Regions from separate parts of the Homo sapiens genome. Here regions 2, 3 and 4 are each linked to region 1. Evidence: fine-mapped QTL for protein levels in blood plasma. A gene starts in region 1. Each other region holds a variant in brackets. All regions are shown on one strand. Distances are from middle to middle.

Evidence for each region. PIP is the chance, under the fine-mapping model, that this variant and not a neighbour inherited with it causes the effect. The UK Biobank Pharma Proteomics Project read protein levels with antibody pairs (Olink). The fine-mapping took linkage between variants from a reference panel, not from the people measured, so its PIPs are less certain.
Region 2: its variant is fine-mapped to the plasma level of the FBLN2 protein (UK Biobank, PIP 0.96). The variant lies in the coding sequence of FBLN2. If it changes the protein, the assay may bind it differently, which can mimic a change of level.
Region 3: its variant is fine-mapped to the plasma level of the FBLN2 protein (UK Biobank, PIP above 0.99).
Region 4: its variant is fine-mapped to the plasma level of the FBLN2 protein (UK Biobank, PIP above 0.99).

The regions. Positions count from the first base shown.
Region 1 is chr3:13,546,416-13,551,557 of GRCh38, reverse strand. It overlaps FBLN2 (fibulin 2), which reads right to left and starts at 2,433. Exons shown (of 18, transcript NM_001004019.2): 1 at 2,350-2,433. RefSeq lists enhancers at 1-461, 462-1,070.
Region 2 is chr3:13,569,665-13,574,806 of GRCh38, reverse strand. It overlaps FBLN2 (fibulin 2), which reads right to left. Exons shown (of 18, transcript NM_001004019.2): 2 at 3,146-4,492. The coding sequence starts at 4,451. Among named protein-coding and RNA genes, the nearest start is that of FBLN2, 23 kb to the right of the region's middle. RefSeq lists enhancers at 2,622-3,338, 4,943-5,142. The variant T/C (reference allele first, on the strand shown) is at 3,243.
Region 3 is chr3:13,636,649-13,641,790 of GRCh38, reverse strand. FBLN2 (fibulin 2) reads right to left here. Exons shown (of 18, transcript NM_001004019.2): 18 at 3,387-4,229. The coding sequence ends at 3,872. Among named protein-coding and RNA genes, the nearest start is that of LINC00620, 12 kb to the left of the region's middle. The variant G/A (reference allele first, on the strand shown) is at 3,462.
Region 4 is chr3:13,515,174-13,520,315 of GRCh38, reverse strand. No RefSeq gene overlaps it. Among named protein-coding and RNA genes, the nearest start is that of FBLN2, 31 kb to the left of the region's middle. RefSeq lists enhancers at 1,155-2,044, 3,418-4,346. The variant G/A (reference allele first, on the strand shown) is at 2,761.

The DNA of each region.
Region 1 (5,142 bases):
GGAGGGAAAAGATCCTGGGCTGAACCCCAGCTCTCCCCCTTGCCTGCTGGGAGGCCCTTTCTCTACCTCCCCTTCCCCGTCTCTTAAATAGGTGCAAGAGTTCCACCCTGCAGGAGGGATGTCGGGATCTGGGAAGAAAAGTGATGAATAAAGCCTGCCTCGGAGAATGCTCTCTGGCATGAGCTCTTGCTTCACGGGGTCCCCATACCACCGTCCCCCACAGCCTAGCAGGAAGTGTCTGCCACCATCACAAAGATGCCCTGTGGCCCAGGGCCCTGGGCACCACTCATTGCTTCAACGACTAAGGCCTCGAAGGGTAGGAGGCCCGCCCAGGGCTTCCCCAGCCATGCATGGAGGACCAGCCTGGGCCTATGCTTGAGGCGGGCAATGGAGCAAAATCAGCCCAATGCATGCAGCAGTCACAGCCGCACAAAGGCCACGCAGGCCAGGCAGGAGCTGAGAAGGCATGAGAGGGCCAGGTGGGGACGGGGACCAAACAGCGCCCCTGCCCCATCCCCTGGGTTGGGGGTGGGCAGCACCAGCCAGGAGATGCAGATCCTGAACTACCAGACCTTGTGACTTTTCAAGAGAAGACGGAAATCCGGACTTTTACGTGAAAACTGCCAATTTGTAAATGCAGGCAGCTAATTAATTTTTTAAAATAATAATAACATGGTGAGAGCCAAACAAAACATGCAGGGCCAGCCACAGCCGGGGCTGGCAGGTTTGTGCCTCCAGAATAAGATTCTTTGACTTCATCCCCTGCTCACCCCCATCACACAGCTCAGCTGCAGAAGGGGAGGGCGGGAAGTCAAGGGTGCACCCCAGGGGAGTAGCTCCCCCTCCCTCTCTTCCTCCTGCTGGGGAGTCTTCACCCCATTTGGCATATGGGGAAGTTAAGGCCCAGAGCCCCTATCAGCCACAAACACACACCAGCTCCCAATCCATGCCAGGCTGAGGGAACACTTCTCAGCTGCCACCCAATTCATCAGGGCTCCCTCTGGGAGGGCCCGGACCAGCATCTCAGGGGCATCAGGGTAGACACAAGCACCCAAACCATCCTGTTTGACTTCCCTTTTTCTCTTTTTGGCCTGTCAGGGGACGCCTGCTGGCTCAGGCCTGCTTGGGACTGGCCCAAGTGATCACTGCAAAGCTGATATGGGCAACTCCTTGTGGCAGCAAAAAAGGGAGGGAGGGCACCCCTATTTCGGAGACTGGAGCAGGGGAAGGGAGAGAGGATGCACGGAGGTGAGGAGTCAGGCCCAGCCTGAGGCTGAGCCACCCCCATGCTCCCCACAGCCACCCAGGTCCCATGGTAAGCAGCCTCTGTCAGGAGGAACCACCTCCCTCCTCCAAAATCGGCTCCCCACCCCCTAGGACAGGGGAGGACTGCCCATGGAGTGCCAGGGGGGCTGGGACTGTGAAGTCGTGGGGGTCTGTGACTCGTATGTGAGACTCACAGTGTGTGGCACTCCCAGTGTTTGTGATTCCAGGTATTTGAGGAGCACACGCATGTGAGAGACACATGTGTGATACATATGATGGAGATATGCATGTGATAGCTACCCCTGTGTGGCGGACGTGTGTGCGTGTCAGAGGGCAGTAAGGGCACATGTGTTTATCAGAGACACAACTGTCTGCTAGAGGCATGCCTCGGAGGGGTGCCAATGTGCAAGGCATGTGTGTGTGGAGCATTGTGTGCTAAGGGGACGTGAGATGAGTGTGAGAGATTCTGGCCTGGGGGAGCTGGCGGGGTGAGCATGGGGCTGGGAGAGGGAGGATGTGGTGACAGGCAGGGTGGGCGCGCCAATGCAGAGCGTGCAGAAACTTCTGCTTGTGTGAGTGCGTGTGTGGCGGTGAGTGTGACTTGGGGGTGATGGAGGGGGTAGTGTTAGACCAGGGACTCTAGTCTTCTTTCCCCGAGGGGGTTGACCCGGCCCTCTGGACTGGAGGGGCGGCAAGGTCCTGCGGTCGGGGTGGGGGTGGGCAGTGGGACCAGAGGGGATGACTGGTGGGAGCCGGCCCAGGGGGGAGAAGTGAAACCCAGAGCGGAGGAAGCTGCGGACCTGGGGTGGGGGAACCCGCCCGCGGACCCCTGGCCCCCACCCCGCGCCGGCCTCTGTGCCCGCATCTGTACACTGGGTCGCGGCGCTCGCGGGCCGTCCCCGCGCTGGGACCGGGAGAGCGAGACCCGGTCGGACCGGCGGCGCGGGTGGAGGCGCGGGCAGCCCGCGAGGCGCGTCCGAGGGTCCGCCGAGCCGTCGGTGCGTCCGAGCGCCCCCGAGTCCTGAGCTGCGAGGCGCGGACCGACGGGGATGAGTCCGGGCGGGAGGGGCCGCGTGCACTCACCGCGGGGCACTGCGCTCGGCGTCCGTCCGTCCGTCCGCCCGGCCGTCGGCGCGTCGAGAGCCCGGGCGGCCCCTGGCTGTGTGCGCGCGGGGCGGGGCGGAGGCGCGAGAGGCGGGACCAGCCGGCCCCCGGCCCCCTCCCCTGACTCCGCCTCCGCCTCCGGGGCGGGGTCTCGGCCGCCCGCCGGAGAGGGGGCCGGGCCGGCGCCGCTCGCTCAGAGCCCAGACTCGCTGACCCGGCTCCTAGAGGCCGCCCGGCGCGCTCGCTGCGGAGCCCGCACCCTCCCTGCGCCCGGCCTAACCTCTGAGTGCCAGACCTGGCACTGCTGCCCACAGGGCAGGGCCAGGGGTTGGGGTCCGGCCACCTCAGCCAGCCTGAGCCTCAGTGATCACCCCTGGAAGATGGGCCCAGCAGCCTTGGGCACATTGTGAGGGCCTGAGGGGCCCGGCTACAAAACTGCCCAGAGGCCAGGCCCTGCCTCCCACCCGCCTTGCTTCCTACCCTGGGGGCCTGCCTGCAGCCCCACTGCTGCTGCATGTGCCTGGGCAGACGGTACTGAGCCCCCAGCTTTGGAACAGGTTCAGTTTGTCCTTTTCCTCAGCCCAGCTCTGATGCCTGTGACCACTGTGTGACCCCCGGGGTGTCTCTTCCCCCAGCCCACACCGATCCCTTTCTGGGTCTCTTTCGGGGTCTCCATCTCTGATCTAATGTCATCTCTCTGTCTCCCTTGGTTTGTCCCTCTTGGTCTCTGCATCTCCCTCTGACTTTATCTCTTGGTCTCTGTGTCTCTCTGAGTCTCTCCCATCCCTGTCCAGAGACGTATGGCCTGGTGGTCACCACCTCACATCTGAGCAGCAGCCATGGGCCCAAAGTGTGCCTGCCCCCACCCCCAGGGGTCTCCCTGCAGCCCAGGACAGGGGTGAGGCAGCCAAGAGCAAAGGCACAGGGCAGGGCAGCTGCCTGCCCAGGGCCGCACAGCAGAGAGGAGGTGGAGCCAGGAAGGGCCCATTGGCTTAGATGGGGCCACCCACAGAGAAGCCAGGAGCGGATGGAGGGGCCAAAGCCTGAGCTGGCAGCCTGTGCCTGGCCTGCCCCAACTTGTGTCTAACCCCAGGCAGGTGCCTTCCCTCTGGGCCCGTTTCCCCATTGGAGCTCTGTGCTTGCTGTTCCCTCAGGGCCTTTGCCATTGCTGTTCCCTCTGCCTGGGATGCTCTTCCCCAGATCCACCGTGGCTGACTCATCCCTGCATTAAGATGCAGCTGAAATCCCACCACCCCCAGAGAAGCCCTCCCTGAGACCCCAGCAGAGGTAGCAACTACCACTCTCCACCCTGGGACTCGGCCGCACTGTTATTACAGTACTTGTCACTGGCTGATTTCTCTTATTCATTTATAAATGACTATAGGTAGGATCACCTGGTCATTAAGAAAGTCACCACACACCAGCTGTGTGACCTTGGGCAAGTTACTTCACCTCTCTGGGCTTTATTTCCTCAACTGTAAAATGAACATAACGACATCAAAGCCTATCTTATAATGTTATTGGAAAGATCAAATGAACCGAAATGAGCCAAACCGAAAGTACAGATGCTCCTCGATTATAATGGGATCATGTCCCCATAAACCCATCGTAAATCGAAAATATAGTAAGTTGAAAATGCATTTCATCCACCTAACCTACAGAACATCATAGCTCAGCCAAGCCTACCTTAAATGTGCTCAGAACACTTCCATTACTAGCCTACGGGTGGGCAAAATCATCTAATACAAAGCCTATTTTATAATGAAGCATTGAATATCTCATGTAACTCATTGAATACTGCACAGAAAGTGAAAAACAGAATGATTGCCTGGGGATTCCAAGTAGGGTTTCTCCTGGGTGTGTACCACTTTCTCAACATCCTAAATTCAAAAAATCCTAAATCGAACCATCGTAAGTCAGGGATTATCTGTACTTTGGATGGGACTTGACCCAAGGGAGTGCTCAGTAAATATCTGATGAGTAAATGACAGATTGAATCCTTCCTCCTGTGGGGGAAGGAGGGGCAGTGGCCTGGGGTGATAGAGACCCTGGGCAGCTGCTAATGAGGCTCCCTTCCCCAGGCCTGGGAGGAGAGGCACTGAGCCAGATGCAGCTCACTCTGCAGCCCAGGGAGCCCAAGGCCTGGCCCGCCTTCCACAAGATAAAGTGGAGACACTTCTCCCGTCCTGTTATCTGAGCCGGAGATGCGGCCAAAGCGGCTGTCCCTTCAGAGCCCTTCCAAGACTGTTATCGCAGACAGAGCACGCATCACCCACCAGGAATTTGGGGCCCAGGGCCTGGCTGAGAAATGGTTGGAGGAAGTCAGGCTGATAAGGCCTAGACAGAATGATCACAGTGGGCAGCGAAGTTATTTACATCAGTGACAATCTCACCAGCTCCCTGGGCACTGAGGCGCCAGGGCCAGCAGGCATGAGGCTCACTTGTCCCACCTGTGCAGCCTGGATTGGGAAGAGAAGCCTTGCTGAGCTTCCTGGGTCTGCATCCTCACTGGGTAGCCTTGGGGAGGCTGCCTACGTTGGAGCATGGGTTCTGGGACCCAATGGCTTTGATTTAAATCCACATCCTCCCTGTATGACCTTCAGCAGGTGGCTTCAACCCTCTGGCCTCAGTGTCCTAGCCTATAAAGAAGTTCCTGCCTTATAGGATTGTTTTGAAGTTAAGATGCTTACAGCAGTGTCTGGTATATCATAAGCCCTCCATTAAATGTTTGTTGTTGTTAATCACAAACAACATTAACTTGAGCTGTTTGGA
Region 2 (5,142 bases), 23 kb before region 1:
GCGCCCCTGGCTGCTGTTGTTGGGGGAGGCCTTGGGGGATCTAGATGATGGAGCAGCCCTTGGTGAGGAGAAGCTGGGGAGGTGGCTTTGCCCTGCTCAGCCCTGGGCCCTGCAGAAAGGGAGGTAATGGGGCCAGAAGTGACCCCTCCAGCCGCGTTGCCATGGCAGCCCTGGGGCCTAGAGAAGGGGTTTCCAGCCAGTGCCCCAGGCCTGGCTGGGCTGGGGGTCCTGTCTTTGAGCTGGAGCCCTGCCAGGGATCCAGACTGCCTCGGCCAGGCCATCCCTGCCTCTGAGCATGTCCAGATGTGGCCTAATGGAAGCCACATGCCCGGCTCCCTGGGCTGGGAAGAAGGGGTCTGACGTCTGTTGTCACTCAAGGGGCTTCGTGAGGGCGGCTTTTCCCGCAGGGCTGGCACAATGGAGGGCCACACGGAGGAACCCTCGGGCAGGGCGGCCCTCAGGAGGTCGGAGGTTCCCAGAGCAGCTGGGGGCAGCCCCTGACCTGCAGAAGGCCTCTCAGCACAGCCTGTGGCCCCAGGAATGCATGGCAGGAAAGGGGCCCCTTCCTCAGGGCCTCACACACGCAGGTTCTGCAGGGCAGGAGTATCTGAATGCTGTGATGCTCTGGCTAACAGGGAAACCCTAAAACTCAAATGACTGCTGCTGTCCACTGCAGACGCCCCTCAACACGGTGACTCTGTTAGGCACCGTGCTCGGCGCTCTGTGATTGCTGAGCCGCGTAGTCCTCACAACAGCCCTCTTAGTTTACAGGAGTGGAGAGTGGGCTACAGGGAGCTCAGGCCACCGCCTGTGGACACAGGGGCAGAAAGTGGTGGAAGCAGGCTTCTCTTCTGCCTTCTTCAGCTCTTCAACCTCTCACAGTGGTTCCCTTTTTTTTTTTTTTTTTTTTTTGAGTTTCACTCTTGTCGCCCAGGCTGGAGTGCAATGGCACAATCTTGGCTCACTGCAACCTCTGCCTCCCAGGTGGTGATTCTCCTGCCTCAGCCGCCCAAGTAGCTGGGATTACGGGCGCCTGCCACCACGCCAGACTAATTTTGTATTTTTAGTAGATTTGAGGTTTCACCACGTTGGCCAGGCTGGTCTCGAACTCCTGACCTCTGGTGACCCACCCACCTTGGCCTCCCAAAGTGCTGGGATTACAGGCGTGAGCCACCACGCCCGGCCCACCCTCTGACAGTGGCTTCTGAGTGCCCAGCATGTGCACAGGAGCCGGTAAGATGCTGAATGTACAGGGTTCACAAAACCCAGCAGAGACCCTGACCTTGGGGAGCTTGGGGCTTTGAGGAGGAGATAGAGACCCCAGCAGTCACAGAGGTGTGATGTTCTGAGCAGTGATACGAGCTGAGGAGTGAAGTGGTGAGCCTCACTCAGGGGATCTGACTCCTCCTGGGGGTCAGGGAAGGCTCCCTGCAGGGAGTCTTGAGCTTCCACTTGAGCTGCAATGTAGAGGATGAGGTGATAAGTGGGCAGTGGTGAGAAGGGGGTGCTCCAGGCGGGGGAAACAGCACGTGCAAAGGCCCCTTAGCCAGAGGGAATTGAACTTGATTGAAAGGAAGCTCTGACTGGTGTGAGAAGAGGCTGGGGAGGGGCCGGCCGGAGGGAGCCATATAGGGCAGAAGGTGGCATGATCTGATTTGTGTTTGAGGCGCTCCCCCCAGGTGCGGGGCTGTCCCCTCTCACACTGACGGAGCTCTGGGCCTTTCCAATGTCTGTGGGTCTGTGAGGCCCCCAGATTCCCTAGGCTGTGGCAGCACAGGGTTATCCACCCAGATTAACCTGTTTGCTAGAGGACTCCTGAAGCCTCTCCTCTCCAGTGTTGGCCCACGGGGGTTTCAAACCTGCGTGGGGTCTTAGGAGCATCACCCCAGGTCCCCATGGAAGCTAGACCAGGCTTCTGGATCTGCAAGCCCCCAGCTCTTGTGACAGAATCACCCCCTGCAGGAGTTCAAGGCTCCTAAAGTAAGCAGGAAGGGGTCAGCCTCGTGGGGGCTGTGGCCCCTGCTTAGCAGCAGCGCCCTTTGAGGACGGCTCTTAGGTAGGCTCAGCGGACCATTCCCCTTCTCGCCACAGCTCATGGGGTCTTCAAATGGGGTGTCTGACTGTGCTGGGCTATGGAGGACCTGCTGGGAGCAGGCATGGATGGGCAAGAAGAGGCCTGGGCCGCCTACCAGCCTCTGCACAGCCTTGGGCCGGTCCCTATCTGAAGCCTGGGTGCCCTGGTCCTGGCTGCCTGCTCTGATGTGCCCGATGGAGTGTATTGAACTCTGTGGCAGGTGGCTTGGAGGATATAGGGTCAGGAGTGCAGGCTCCAGGGCCTTCCAGGCCCACTGCTCACTGGTTGTGTGACCTGAGCCTCCAGCACCACCCTCGAGCCCCAGTTGCCTCACTGGTGAAACAGCGTACATAGTAGTAAGCACTCGGTGCTGCTGGAAGGACTGATGGGAAGCTGCCTGACCAGCTCGGAGAGGGGCCTCCATGGAGTGAGGGTACAGCTGGTGTGGCCCCACCACCTCCACTGGCCCAGCATGGCCAGCGCCCCTGCTCAAATGGCCCACCCACCTCGCCTCTGTCCACGAGTTCACTTCTTTCTACAACACATGCTTGTGAGATTAGGATTTGCTGCAGACACTTAGAAATGGGAAGATGTCACATAAAATTCAGCTTTCTGGCTGACATTTGTTGAAAAATTGGCAGAGGTGGCCATGCTAGGCTCCTAGGCCACAGGCCAGCCACCGGGGCAGCTGAGAAGAGACCGCCCTTCGCATTTCCTGCCAGGACACGTGGGGGCCTACCGGGCTGAGGCAGGAACCCTCCTCAGGGCCCCCAGCTCTGAAGATGTGCACCTTCTGGACCCTTGACCACTACCGCAGCCCTACCAGGGGGCCCAGCACCTCCCACAACAGGAACCCCACTCCCACCCACCCATCCCATCCCAAGAGCTGGGCCTGGGAGAAGATGCACTCTCACAGCCTCCTGCCCAAACCAAGGGCCTGGGGTGGCCACCCTAGGCCTGGCCCCACAGTCCAGCATCCCCAGCCCCAGGCAGAGACCTGGGGCAGCGGCCAGAGCCCAAGGCTGCCCTTCCCACACAAAGTGCCCTGAAGGAACCAGGACAGGGTCTTACCTTCAGGGCTACTTCTGGGGATAGAATGGACAGAGTTGGGGTCTGTGTCCTCCTCCACGTGGGAATGGGGCAGAACTTGCGGCTTCCTGGGCACTTC[T/C]CGGGTGGGTGGGATCCAGGCTGCATCAGGCAGTGATGTGGACAGGATGTTGTGGGGGCTGGGCTTGACTGGGTCCCTGGGAGAGCCAGGCACGGCCTGAGTTGGGACGAGAGCAGCCTTGCCCAGGCTCGGTGCATGCGTCACGCCCTCCGGCCCAGTGCTGCGGGACGTGGCTTGGGCATCCAGGATGAGGTTCTCTTCAGGCCTTGCCCCAGCTTCTGCCCTTGCCCCAGCTTCTGCCCTCTCCTCCTGGATAGGAAGACTGGGTCCAGCTGGGGCTGTAGTGGGCAGCCCATCCAGCCCCCTGTGGCCACCTGCTGCCAGCTGCTCAGTGACAGCCATTTCCTCTCTCTCCTCCTCCTCCTCTTCTTCCTCCTCACTGTCCTCGGTCACTCTCCTAGCTTTGGCCTGCACTGGGGCTGGGGGACCCAGGGCAGCAGCCGCTGTGGGCCTGGGGAGGACAGCTGGCCAGGGGGGTGCCTGGATGGTGGACAGTGGCTGACTCCCACCTCCCAGAGCAGCTGGGGGGCCCCCTGCGCCTGCCTGGACTGCACCCGCCTGGACCTCACCCCCCAGGGCTGTTGCTGCTTCCACCTCGGCCACCTCCTGGTCATAGCTGTAGGGGTCTTCGTAGTGTCGCTCGGGGTCACCCTCCTCGGCATCTGAGAAGTTCCCGTGGCAACCGGGGAGCTGGTAGCAGATGAGCTCTCCACCGGCGTCAGGGCAGTGGCAGGCCCGGCAGGGCGGCAGGTGAACAGTGTGGCCAGCGGCGTACTTGTGGCCCGCGTGGACGCAGCCCACCTGGCCGCACTGTGGGCAGCTGTCAGCCACCACTACAGCCTCGATGCAGTTGGGCGGCAGCTCCGGGCACAGCATGAACTGGCAGCTGATCTTGCCGCCGCCTGGTGGGCAGGAGCACTCAGTGCTCCCGAAGTCCACAAAATAGGACTGACCGGCGGGCACGCGGCCGCGCACGAAGCCACCCTGTAGGCAGTCATAGTACTGGTAGCCCTCGCAGGCGCAGCCCTGCTGCACACACGTGGCACAGCAGGCACCCGGCTCCAGCGCCTCCTCAATGCAGTTCTCCAGCGGCGGGCACTCCACGCCCGTGCAGTCCTGCCGAGGGGCAGCTGCGGCCACGCTGGGGCCCAGGGCCAGGGCCAGGCCCAGAGCAAGCCAGGCTCCTGCAGGCTCCCAGAGCAGCACCATGGTCCAGGCCAGCCCAGGACGGTCCCCTCTCCTGTAAGACCCTGGGGGAATCAGAAAGGAAGCCTGTCAGTACTGGGTGTGCACACACAGACACGGTGCACACCGGCACGCACGCGGGCAGGGGCCCAGCCTCAGCCACCTCACACGCATGCGCTCATCCCCAGGAGCACACTAAGCACTGCCTCACACACACACACAGGCTCCGCCACACATGGGTCAGATCACACACAGGTGAGTGTCTAGTCGCTGGGCGCCACAGGTGTTGACCTGGAGTCGCTGACAGCCCCACACGTGTTTGCTGGGCCACTCCATCCTCCATCCTCACCTGCATTCTGAGGCAGGTCCTCTGAGTGAGCCCTCGTGCCCACACACACACATGCACAGCCCCACACCCACTCGGTCACACTCACCAGGGCACGTCAGGCAATATGCCCCATAATCCTCTATGCAGTTACACACGCTGTCTCACCCACAGCATGCCCACGTGCCAGTACACACCCTGGGCGGTCTCACACGCACAGTCCCACGCACACACCCGACCAATCCCTCCCCCCAGATCCTTGACTCAGTCCCCAGCCACGCACCACAGCTGCTGGCCAGAAAATACAGTCAGTGGGGAAATGCTAGGCAAGAACAAGACGCCCCCTACAGCCCCAGCCCGCAGACCCTAGGACTCAGGAACACACCTCTG
Region 3 (5,142 bases), 90 kb before region 1:
ACATCCGGCTAAATTTTTTTTTTTTGTATTTTTAGTAGAGATGGGGTTTCACCATATTGGCCAGGCTGGTCTCGAACTCCTGACCTCAAGTGATCCACCCGCCTTGGCCTCCCAAAGTGTTGGGATTACAGGCGTGAGCCACTGTGCCTGGCCTCCTATGCCTTTTCTAAGAGAACTGGGGAAGGGAGGTTGCTGGTAAGACTGCTTTTCTTTTCTTCTCCACATCACCTCGCCTTCCTCCTTTCCTATCTGCTGCAGTGGCCCCAGGACCAGGGCTGCAGCTGCAAGTGCTGAGGTAGCAATGACTCCTAGGCAGGAGGGTGCACCTCTAGCTCCAAAGCTTCATGCCAGAGCTCCTGAGGGCTGATGGAGTGGATGGTGCCTTCACCCCATCCGGAAAAATCAGGGCTGCTAGTGAGGGCAGGCACATTGCCTGGTGGTGGAGACAGCCCACTAGTTCTACACCTGTGAAGCCCCATCCTACACCAACCGGAGTGGACTGTCAGGGAGGCACTTGCTAGGCTGGCATTGCTTCTGACAATCCGGCCCAACAGCATGGCCGAACCTCATGGCCCTTCCAAAGGTGGAAATACCTGGATACAAATGGAGAAAAGGAGGAACCGGAGCTGAGGGTAAAGCAACCAGTACGTGGGTTATGTAGTGAGGGAAATCCTTTTTTTTTTTTTTTTTTTTTTTTTTTTGCGACGGAGTTTCGCTCTTGTTGTCCAGGCTGGAGTGCAATGGCACAATCACAGCTCACCACAACCGCCGCCTCCCTGGTTCAAGCAATTCTCCTGCCTCAGCCTCCTGAGTAGCTGGGATTATAGGCATGTGCCACCACACCCAGCTAATTTTGTATTTTTAGTAGAGATGGGGTTTCTCCATGTCGGTCAGGCTGGTCTTTAACTCCCAACCTCAGGGGATCCGCCCACCTCGGCCTCCCAAAGTGCTGGGATTCCAGGCGTGAGCCACCGCGCCCGGCCGGGAAATCCAATTTTACGTGAATCCTACATTACAGTACTACCTTAAGAGCGGCGTGGAGGGCATCGTCTCAGCTCAACTACACTAGATGCCTGAAAGGGTGACGCCAAGGCCGCCTCTGCTTTTGGAACTTGACAAGGTCGAATGGCAGCCTGCAAACCTGAGTGGCCTCACCCTGGGGGACATCTGCTGATCTGATGTGGTGATGGACTAGATAAACTGCTATGACTGAGTGGGACTCCGGTCTTCCTTTTTAGGTGACATCCACCAGACTGCAATATGGTCCTACCTGGCACGGTTGATAAGGTTATAACGTTGATGGTGATGGCAAATGTATTGAAACCCTGAGTTCCAGCCTCCTCAGGATGTAGCAACGATGGAGAATGACACCTGCGGAAGAGCTAGGTGGAGCCAACCCCGGGCTAACGCCTGCACACGGTGGTTCTTTACATGCTTCATAGGCACGGGCAGCCCTGCCACAAGGGAGGAAGCAGGCAACGCTGAAGGAGCTGCCCAGACAAACGTGACTATTCCACTGCGAGAACGCTGGGGCCGGGGCCGGGGGTGGCCTGCAGGGTGAGCTCTCGGCCCCCAGAACGTCCTGGCTGGCACTGGAGTACCAGCGTTTTCAGGGGCTTTGCTGCCTCAGTTCTGACCTCTGCGAGGGACTGGAGACTTAGGGCCAGCCACGCTGACAGCCAGGTGGTCAAGCTCCCAGACACACCTGGACCCCAAAGGTGCCCTGTTCAGCTCTATTCTGTTGTGCTGCATCCTGAGGACACGGGAGCTCCGTGACTGGGCTCTCCTGGACTCTGCTCTAGAATTCATCAATGACTTTAACCTGCTTCCTTTCACCATAAACTGTCTGAGTCATGCAGGTGAATTAATGAGCCTGAGGGTGGATGTAAGGACCCCCAAACCTGTAGCCCATTGCTCAGACGTGAGGGTGGTCCTAGGGATGCCTGAGCTTGTTTCTGGTGTGCAGTTCTTGGTCTGCAGTGAGGGTAGTCTTGTAGGGGCTATTCCCTGAAGCTGCAGTTTGCCAAACTTGCCGGCATGGAATTCTAGAATCACCTTAGAAACTCTAAGGTCCGGAGAGAAGTTGTTCTCCAAGACCCTCCGTATGGATGCGCTGGGTGCCAAGTTCATTTTACTGGCTCGATGGCCTGTGCAGGAAGAACAGCTGGAGCCCCTGTTCACAGGGGAGACCAGTGAGGGGAGGCGAAGTCACTTGCCTGAGGTCCCAGAAGGAGTAACCGGGGCTGGGTAGGAGCAGGAACGGCTGCTGCCAGCCAGGGGTGTCCCTAACCTGCCTGTCCTGTTGAATGGAGCCTGTCACCTACTGGTTCCCGCTGGTGGGGACTGTGCACCACAAAGGTGCCGGATCTAGTTTTTCTGAAAATCAGCAAAATAGAAGGAACAGAGACAGCCCGGACAGGGACAGGGAAGACCTGGCTTCTGCTGCACCCTTGGGGATGGGGGCCGGCGAGGAGCAGGGACAGAGGGCCCCCACCGCAGGCTTCCGGCAAGAGGCTCCCAAACACCTGTCCTTTAGAAGCCTGAGCAAGTCGCCACCTCTTAACACTGAGAGAGTTTGTGTTGAGGAATGAGAACATCTGGCCATCCCGGGCCACGCGCCCAGAAGGCGGCCTTGCTGGAGCCAAGTGTAGGCGCCCCCTTCACACAGGGCATGTGCTGCCCAGCGCGCCCCGACAGGCCTGCTTCCCTCCACCCACAGTGAGAAACACTTTCTACCAAAAGCCAGAGCTAGCGTGCCCACGCATAGGTGCACACGCCCCATGTACTGTGGTTTGGTGAAGCAGTTCTTCTCTTTACAGGGTGTGAAGCACTCATATCTCATCTGCTCTATTCTACGTCATTTTAAAAGTGCTGGCTGCCGCCCCCTATATTTAACTCTAGACCCACGGAGCCCGAGCAGGGTCATCAGAGCTGGGTCCCGACACCTGCTCTGATGCTCGCTGTGGGCTGGGGGCACATCGCTTCCGCTCTCAGGGCCTCAGTTTCCCAGGTTCCTTCAGGCTCCTGCCCAGGTCTACTGCCTGACCTGACAGCTCAGCAACAGGGGCCAGGACAAGTTCTGGACAACATCCAAGTGACAGGCCATCAGTGGAGGTCTTCATGGGGGGAAGGCAGAGGAGGGAGGAGGGAGGAGGAAGGAGGAGGGAAAGCTGAAGTGGTAAAAGCAGAATAAAGAGCCTGGTCAGTGACTGATCACACTGGGGTGCCCTCATCCCAAAGTGAACTTCAGGTTCGGGGCTCGTTGAGAAGGACATCAAGGTCTTCATCAATGAATTGACATGCTGGCCAGGCCATAGAGCCCTGTGACATCTGGACAACGTTGTCAAACTCTGAACACTTTACAAAAGTAAAGGGACCAAGAGGCGTTTTCCTCTGTTACTTTATAACCCTTTCATACTAGTTGAACTTTTTTTTATATAATGTACATGTACTACTTTATA[G/A]TTAAACAAAAAACTTTAAAATGATTTTTTAAAAAAGAAAAGAATTAATCACAGTGGAACATGAAATGGAATGTCAACTTTGGGGACGGGTCATCCAGAGGAGTCCAAGAGCCCCAACATGGTCGCGTGTCTCTGGTCCTCAGGTCATCACCCAGCCTCACCCACAGGGCACCCGCCACGGCCGTGGCCCACCGTGCAAGCTTCCACTTGGTGCCTGCGTGGGAACGCACCACCTGCCGTGGAACTTCCTCCTGCGGGGCAGAGGAGGGGTCCAGAAGCCACAGGAGTCAAGTCAGCAAAATTAAGTTAATTTACAAAGTTATAGTAAAAACCACAATAGTGACCCAGTCCCTCCCACGCAGTGTGAGCCCTGGGCTGCGCCACACCCGCAGGTGGCCCGTGCTGGCACCTCACAGGGCAAAGGTGGTGAAGAAGATGTGCATCTTGGCCAGGAAGGTGGTGACGGAGCCCTGCCTCCAGAGCTTCATCTCCACGTCCAGGGCAAAGTCCCGGGGCTCCAGCACGGCCCGCTGCAGGTAGACCACACCCGTGTAGGCATTGAGCCTGCGCGTGCCAAAGTAGCCCTCCTCATTGCCCTTGATGATGTTCAGGGCGATGGTGTCCCCCGTGAAGGCTGGCGCGGGGCCAATGCGGAAGATATGCGCAGGCACCAGGAGGCCCGTCTGGAAGTTGAGCTGGTAGTGCGTGATGCGCGCTGGCGAGTTCTGGCACTCCAGGAAGTCATGGCACGTGGTGCGCTCGCACTTCCTGCAGGGAGGATAGGCCGGGTCACCCACAGCTCGCCCACCCCCCTCATCCCCAGACGGGGACACAGATGGCACAGCTCAGCGGCAGGATCAAGGGCCAGCTCTCTCCCTAATGGCCGGGAAGCCTCAGGCAAGTCCCCTTACGTCCCCTGGGTCTCAGTTTCCTTGCCTGCGAGATGAGGTTAATAAAACCTTCACCGGCTCACTGGAATGGGTGAGTTTAGCATGGCACTGGCCAGGCTCGTTAACAGCTCTTACCTGTCCCCATGCTCCTTTCTTCCTCCCTCCTGCCATCCTCCCATTCTTCCTTTCTCCTTCCTTTTCCCTCTCCCCTTCCCTTCCTCCTCCTTCTCCCTTCTTCCCAGTGCACCCAGTGTCCCTCCCAGGGTCCCTCCCAAGTGCCGGGCCGTGTGGCTGGTGGCAGAGTAGCGGTCTGTCAGTTCTGAGGTTAAGTGAGGTTAAGGGGCTGCCGCTGGCACTTCTGATACACTGAGCTGGGGAGTGGCATGTCACAAGCAGCCTTGTGGAGGGGCTCATGTGATGCGGAGCTGAGGCCTCCTGCCCAGAGCCCCATGAGCAGTGGCAGGATCCCGCACCCCGGACAGGCAGCCCCTGAGATCCTGAGCCAGACCACCTAGCTACACCACTCCCAGGCTCCTAGCCCTCAGACACTGCGTGACAAAGAGTAAGTATCTGTTGTATTCTGGTGCTAAATGTTGGTTGGGATAACTGGTCACACAGCAGTAACTACCATGTGTGTGTATGAGGAAGAGGGCTGGTGTTTTCTGTGTGTCTTTTCCCCTTCCTTCTCTCAACCCTGAACTCTCTAAAAGCTACTTATATTTGTTTTGGTCACCTAGCCCACAGACCCAGCAGTCAGGGGCTGGGACGAGAGGGAGGTGATCAAGGCAGGC
Region 4 (5,142 bases), 31 kb after region 1:
GGCCTTGGGAGAGGGTTTAGCCAAGTTCATGCTGGTGTTTTCCTCACAACAGCTGTGGGAGGAGGGAGGCTCCACCCCATTTTACAGATAGGGAAACTGAGACTCAGAGAGAAAAGGTAACTGGCTCAAGACTAACAACAAGCAAGTAGCAGAGCCAGGGAGGGGCCCAGGTCAGGGGCTGGGGAAGACCAAAACAAGATGAGGCCTGAAGTGGGGAGAAGGCATCCAAAATACCAAAGCTCTTCCCTGTCCTCAGTCTCCCAGGCTTCTAGCCATGGCCACCCACCACTTCTGGAAGGGGCCTGCTCTCTCGTGCCCCTGGGCTTTTGTACATGCTGTTCCTTCTGCTTAGAATGCTTAGCTCAAACGTCTCTTCCTCCAGGAAGCCCTCTTGGGCTGGAATAGCTCCTCAGGCCGAAAGCCCCTGAGCTTTCAGAGCACTGAGTTTGCTGGGCTGCTCAAGGGTGGGCTAGAAGCTCTGGGTCCAGACACTTGGAGGCTCTGCAGCCAGTGGACCTCTCTAGGAGGAAGAGAAGCTGATGGCTTGATTCTTGTCGGAGCTAGAGGACTTGCAAGCTAGCATGGAGCTCCACCCACGCTCTCCATGTTCCTGCAGCTGAGACAGGGGCTGCGGCGCTCTGAGGTCCATTGGGGTCGCTGTGGGTGCCCAGCTCCCTGGCCCCGCCCCAGCCCCAGCAGTCTCTCCAATGCTCAGGCTGCAAATGGGTGGGGACTCCTTGGGGACCTCATCCCACCTCCTGACGGGGGACCAAAGAGGGAAAGGGCCCCCAATCTCAGCCTGGCTGCCTCTTGGGAGAGGAGATGGAGGAGAATGGGGGCAGAACTCCCGCAGTGCTGGGAGAGGCCTGCCAGGCAGCCAGGGAGGCAGGAGCGGCAAAGATGGGGTTTCGGGGTAGGGGCAGTGCAGTCTCAGCCTAATCCTGTGGGTATCGGGCGGCAGCATCAGCACCACTGCAGGAAGGCCTTCCCAACAGACGCACACACACCATTGTCCCACTCCCCAGACTCTCCGTGTTTATTTCCCTCTTGTCCTCATTAGAATGTCTTCCAAACAGTCCAGCCCTGTGTGTCATAGGACCTGGGGGCAGGACTTCCAGTAATGCTGGGGCCAGGGTATCAGAGGAGGGAAGGATACCCGGCCTCGCCCACCCCCAGAGGTCTGGAGTCATTGGGGAGGGAAGAGGGGACTCTGGAGACAAAGTCAGCCGAAGCACTGTCACCAAGCTTCCCCCAACCCAGGAAGCCGCCCCTCCAGGGTCAGCCTCGGGGAAGGGAAGGACCAGCCCTGAGGACAACTCAGGGCTGAGTGTGCGACACCCAAGGCACAGTGAACCCAGAGTCCTGGTCTGCGAGGCCCACGGGCTGGGGCCTGCCTGGGTCTCGCCAGCCCTCCCAAGGCCTTGGCCCCAGGCCCTGATGCCTGGTCCCAGCTCCCAGGCCCTAGACTCTGCCAACCCTGGCAAGATGCCCTCCCTCCCCTCAGCAGGCGCCGCCTTCCTCCCCTAGCCCAGGAATTGCCCCATGTGTCCAGCCACACGAGGAGCTCCCGGAGCTGGCTTTGTCCCAAGCATCCTTCCAAGCAGAACATATCTGCTCCCGCCTGCAGGCTTCCCCGGGCCTCCTGCCACCAACCCTTGGGGGGGCAGCCACAACATTTGTGCTGAGCCCAGGCCGACAGTCCCTGGCACTGCCTCTGCAGGCGGGTGCCCACTCTTCACCTCGTGCCCGAGAGACCTTGGTAGAACGCTGGCCGAGCCTCCACCCTGCACTTTCTCCTCCCCACCGTCTGGCCTACATTCCTGGGATGGACCCAAGTTCCCATAGGCAGAGAATCCATCCCTGGGCTGGCATCGTTTGGGAAAAGCATCAAGGACTTGCCTGGAGGTATCCAAGGACTCCGAAGCAAGTGCCAGAGCAAACCCCACCCGTGCCTGCTTCCTTCCTCGGGCCCTCTGGATGGATAAGGGGAGGTGGAGGAAGACAGAGGCACAGAGGTCAGACTGCAGACCAAGCCTTTGGTGTACATGACAGCCAAGCTTTACCTCTACGGCATTGTGTTGGTGGCATTACTGTCCCGCTTTATAGAAGAAATGGAGAAAAAGAGAGAAAGGACCTGCCCAAGGTCACACAGCCAGGAAGTGGCACAGGCAGGATTGAACCCAGGACCCATTTTCAATGCCCCTGAAACCAGCCTGCCATGCTTGGGGCCTGAGCCTCACTTGAGCGGGCATGGGAAAGATGGCAGCCTCCTTCCCATCAGTGGGTAGGGCTGGAGGTCGATGGTCTTGGACCCTGGATTCACAAGGACCTTGGAGCCCAAGTCTCCACGCAGTAGCTGCCTCCTCCTGGATCAAGTTTATTAGGCCCTATAACTGGGCTCCTGCCTCAGTTTCCCTTGCTGCCTAGAAGGCTGGGTCCTGCTGCTCCTCCTGGGTCCAGGAGACAGTTCCTGTGTGGCTGTCCTGACCAAGGTTACAGATCCCTCACCTTCCTTCTAAGGTGGCTCCTGGTGCTCACTAAGCACATGTGAGCACCCTGGCCCCGGACCCCACCATGTGCCTCCTGTCCTTTTTCCTGGGCCTTGAGTTGGAAGGGCAGCAGGGACAGAGGGCTCCGCCCCCGGTTTCTCAGTAGAGGTAAAAGATGGAGGCCGACAGAGGGTCAGGGCCTGCCTCAGGCCACCCAGTGCACAACCTGGGTCAGCCAGGGACTGTCCCAGGCCTGGGAGCTGCAGAAGCC[G/A]AGGGGAGGGTGGGGCTGCCGGGGGCTGGGGCTGATGACTGCTCTATCTTCCAAACAACAGCAGCAAGGGATGGCAGCCAGGCTGTCGGGACAGCCTGTTCCCATAGCGGGGCCCAGGGGAACCTAGCCTGACCACACCTCGGCTATGCCGGGCCTGACATCTGTGCAGCTGCATCGGGTGACCCAGGCTGGCCCTGTCCCTGCTCAGTTCCTCCGAGGGCTGCAGCATGGCAGTAGCCCAGGGCCCGCGGGTCCACCATTTCCGCGGCTGATGGGGCTGGGGGTCCTCCCCGAGGTCAGGGGACCCATCCCCTGCCTCTGGGGGCACCTGCCAGGCTGGTGGAAGAAAGAAGGGGAGAGAAAGCTGAGGAAGCAAGGGAGGGAGCTGCCACCCACTCCGCTTCTACTTCCTGCAGCTTCTGTGAGGGGCTGTCACCTCCGGAGGCTTGCTGTGGGTGCACATGGTACGCAGAGACAGTGGACGTGGCTGGCCCACACCAGGCAGCTGTGTGCGGCAGAACCCTCGCATCCAGCCTAGAGTGCCTATAGCAAGGGCTGCCATCAAGACCACTTGCTTCTGGGCATGGTTCTGAGTGCTTTACATGAGCTGACGCATTTATTCCTCACAGCAACCCCAAGAGGCAGCTACTAATATTATCCCCATTTTATGGATGAAGTAAATGAGACTGGGGCGGTTAAGTCATTCACCTAAGGTCAAAGGAAAGTGGGCCCTGACCAGTGCCGTCCAGTTTATCCCAGTACCGGTACCCCTGTGGATGGAAAGGGTGAAGCCTGTTCCTCCCACGCCCACTGATGTCTCCTCCAACACCGCCCCCCGCCTCCCCCGCCTGGCCTGGCTGCCAGCAACTCCTTGGACGCTCCAGGTGGAAAAACAATTGTGGGGCTGGCTCGGGTGGCTGGAGCAGCCGGGAGCTCCAGGCTTGGTGTCCCACCTATGCCAAGCCGCCAGAGCAGGGTGGGGGATGGGAGCACTTGCTCAGGAGCAGGGTGGGGATTCAGAGGAGACGCTGGGGCCCACCAGGGATGGCAGAAGCAGGCCTCTACCCCGGCCTGGCCAAAGTCGGCTCTGGGCCTGCTCCCCACAGTCAGAAGGGCAGGGGGAGCCCCCCAGCAGGCACCAGCCAACTTCCCTCCCGACTGGAGCAAATGACTGAGTCTTTACCAAGCGCCTACTAAGCACCGCAGGCCCTGTTCCGGGGGTCGAGTCAGGGACAGACCCAATCCTGCCCCTTTACTGCCTGGCAGGAAGAACAGGCAAGGAAACACACAGTCTCAAGAATGCTTGCTTGTTTCAACTCCCTGGGGATCTCAGTTTGAGCTGAGGAAACTGGGGCTCTGGGAGACGAAGTGAATCGCCCAAGCACTCAGCAAGGCCGAGCTGAGATTCTGAGCCCTCGTGCCTGGGCTCTGAACTCACCCAGATCCCACCTTGGTGCCAGCTGCTTCTCATTGAGCACCTACTGTGTGCTGGGTCATTCCCAGGCCCGCCCGACCCTCCCAATGGCCCCCCAGGTGGGTATGGCCATTGCCATTTTAGAGAAGCGGTAGCCGAGGCTCCGAGTCGGGGAACCACTTGCTGAGAGTCACCTTGCTGGAAAGGGACCCCACCCCAGAGTGTCTGACCCCAGAGCCCACAGCCTCCCCCAGACTTTTTCTGGAAACTCCTGGCATTTAGGGGAGTGAGAAAGAGCTGTCCTGAGCAGGTCAGAGTGGTGTCAGGGATGCTGCCAGTGGGGCCACCTCCTACACTGGGGACAGCTGGGGGCTGGACCTTGGCTGACACTATCCTTTTACAATGATACGTTATTCATCTAGCTTAAGCCACACAGATGAGAACTCTCTAGATAATTTTGGTCTTTCCTTTTAGACAACAACACAGTTATAATTTAACTATTTTAAGAGGACATGAAGTCTACACAATGTCTTCTCTGCGTTAATTACCATGGTGAACCATTTTCAGGCCACAGACCAGTACAGTGAAGGTCTTGGTGCTCAGTGAGATAGGGAACGTTACTTGCACCTACACAAATGGCCCCAAACTGATATTTTGTTGTTATTCTTGTTCTTATGTCTGCATTTAACGGTTGTTCTGTCTCTCTCTTATTGTTGAGCTGTTATTTCTAAAAGCGCTAAGGGTTTGCTCTGGAAAGTAGAAAATAAGCTTGATGCATCTTGTGAGTGTCTGAGTTATCAATGGTTCTGCTGTGAGCAGAACTTAACAACAAAGGGAATTCACCAAAATAATAAATTACACCAAGTACTTATCGAGCTAGAGAAGCTCTGGGGACTCAAGGATTAAAATCAGGGTCTTGATTATGGCATGGTCACTAGCCTTTGCAGCAATTGTTTGCAAATTAGAAA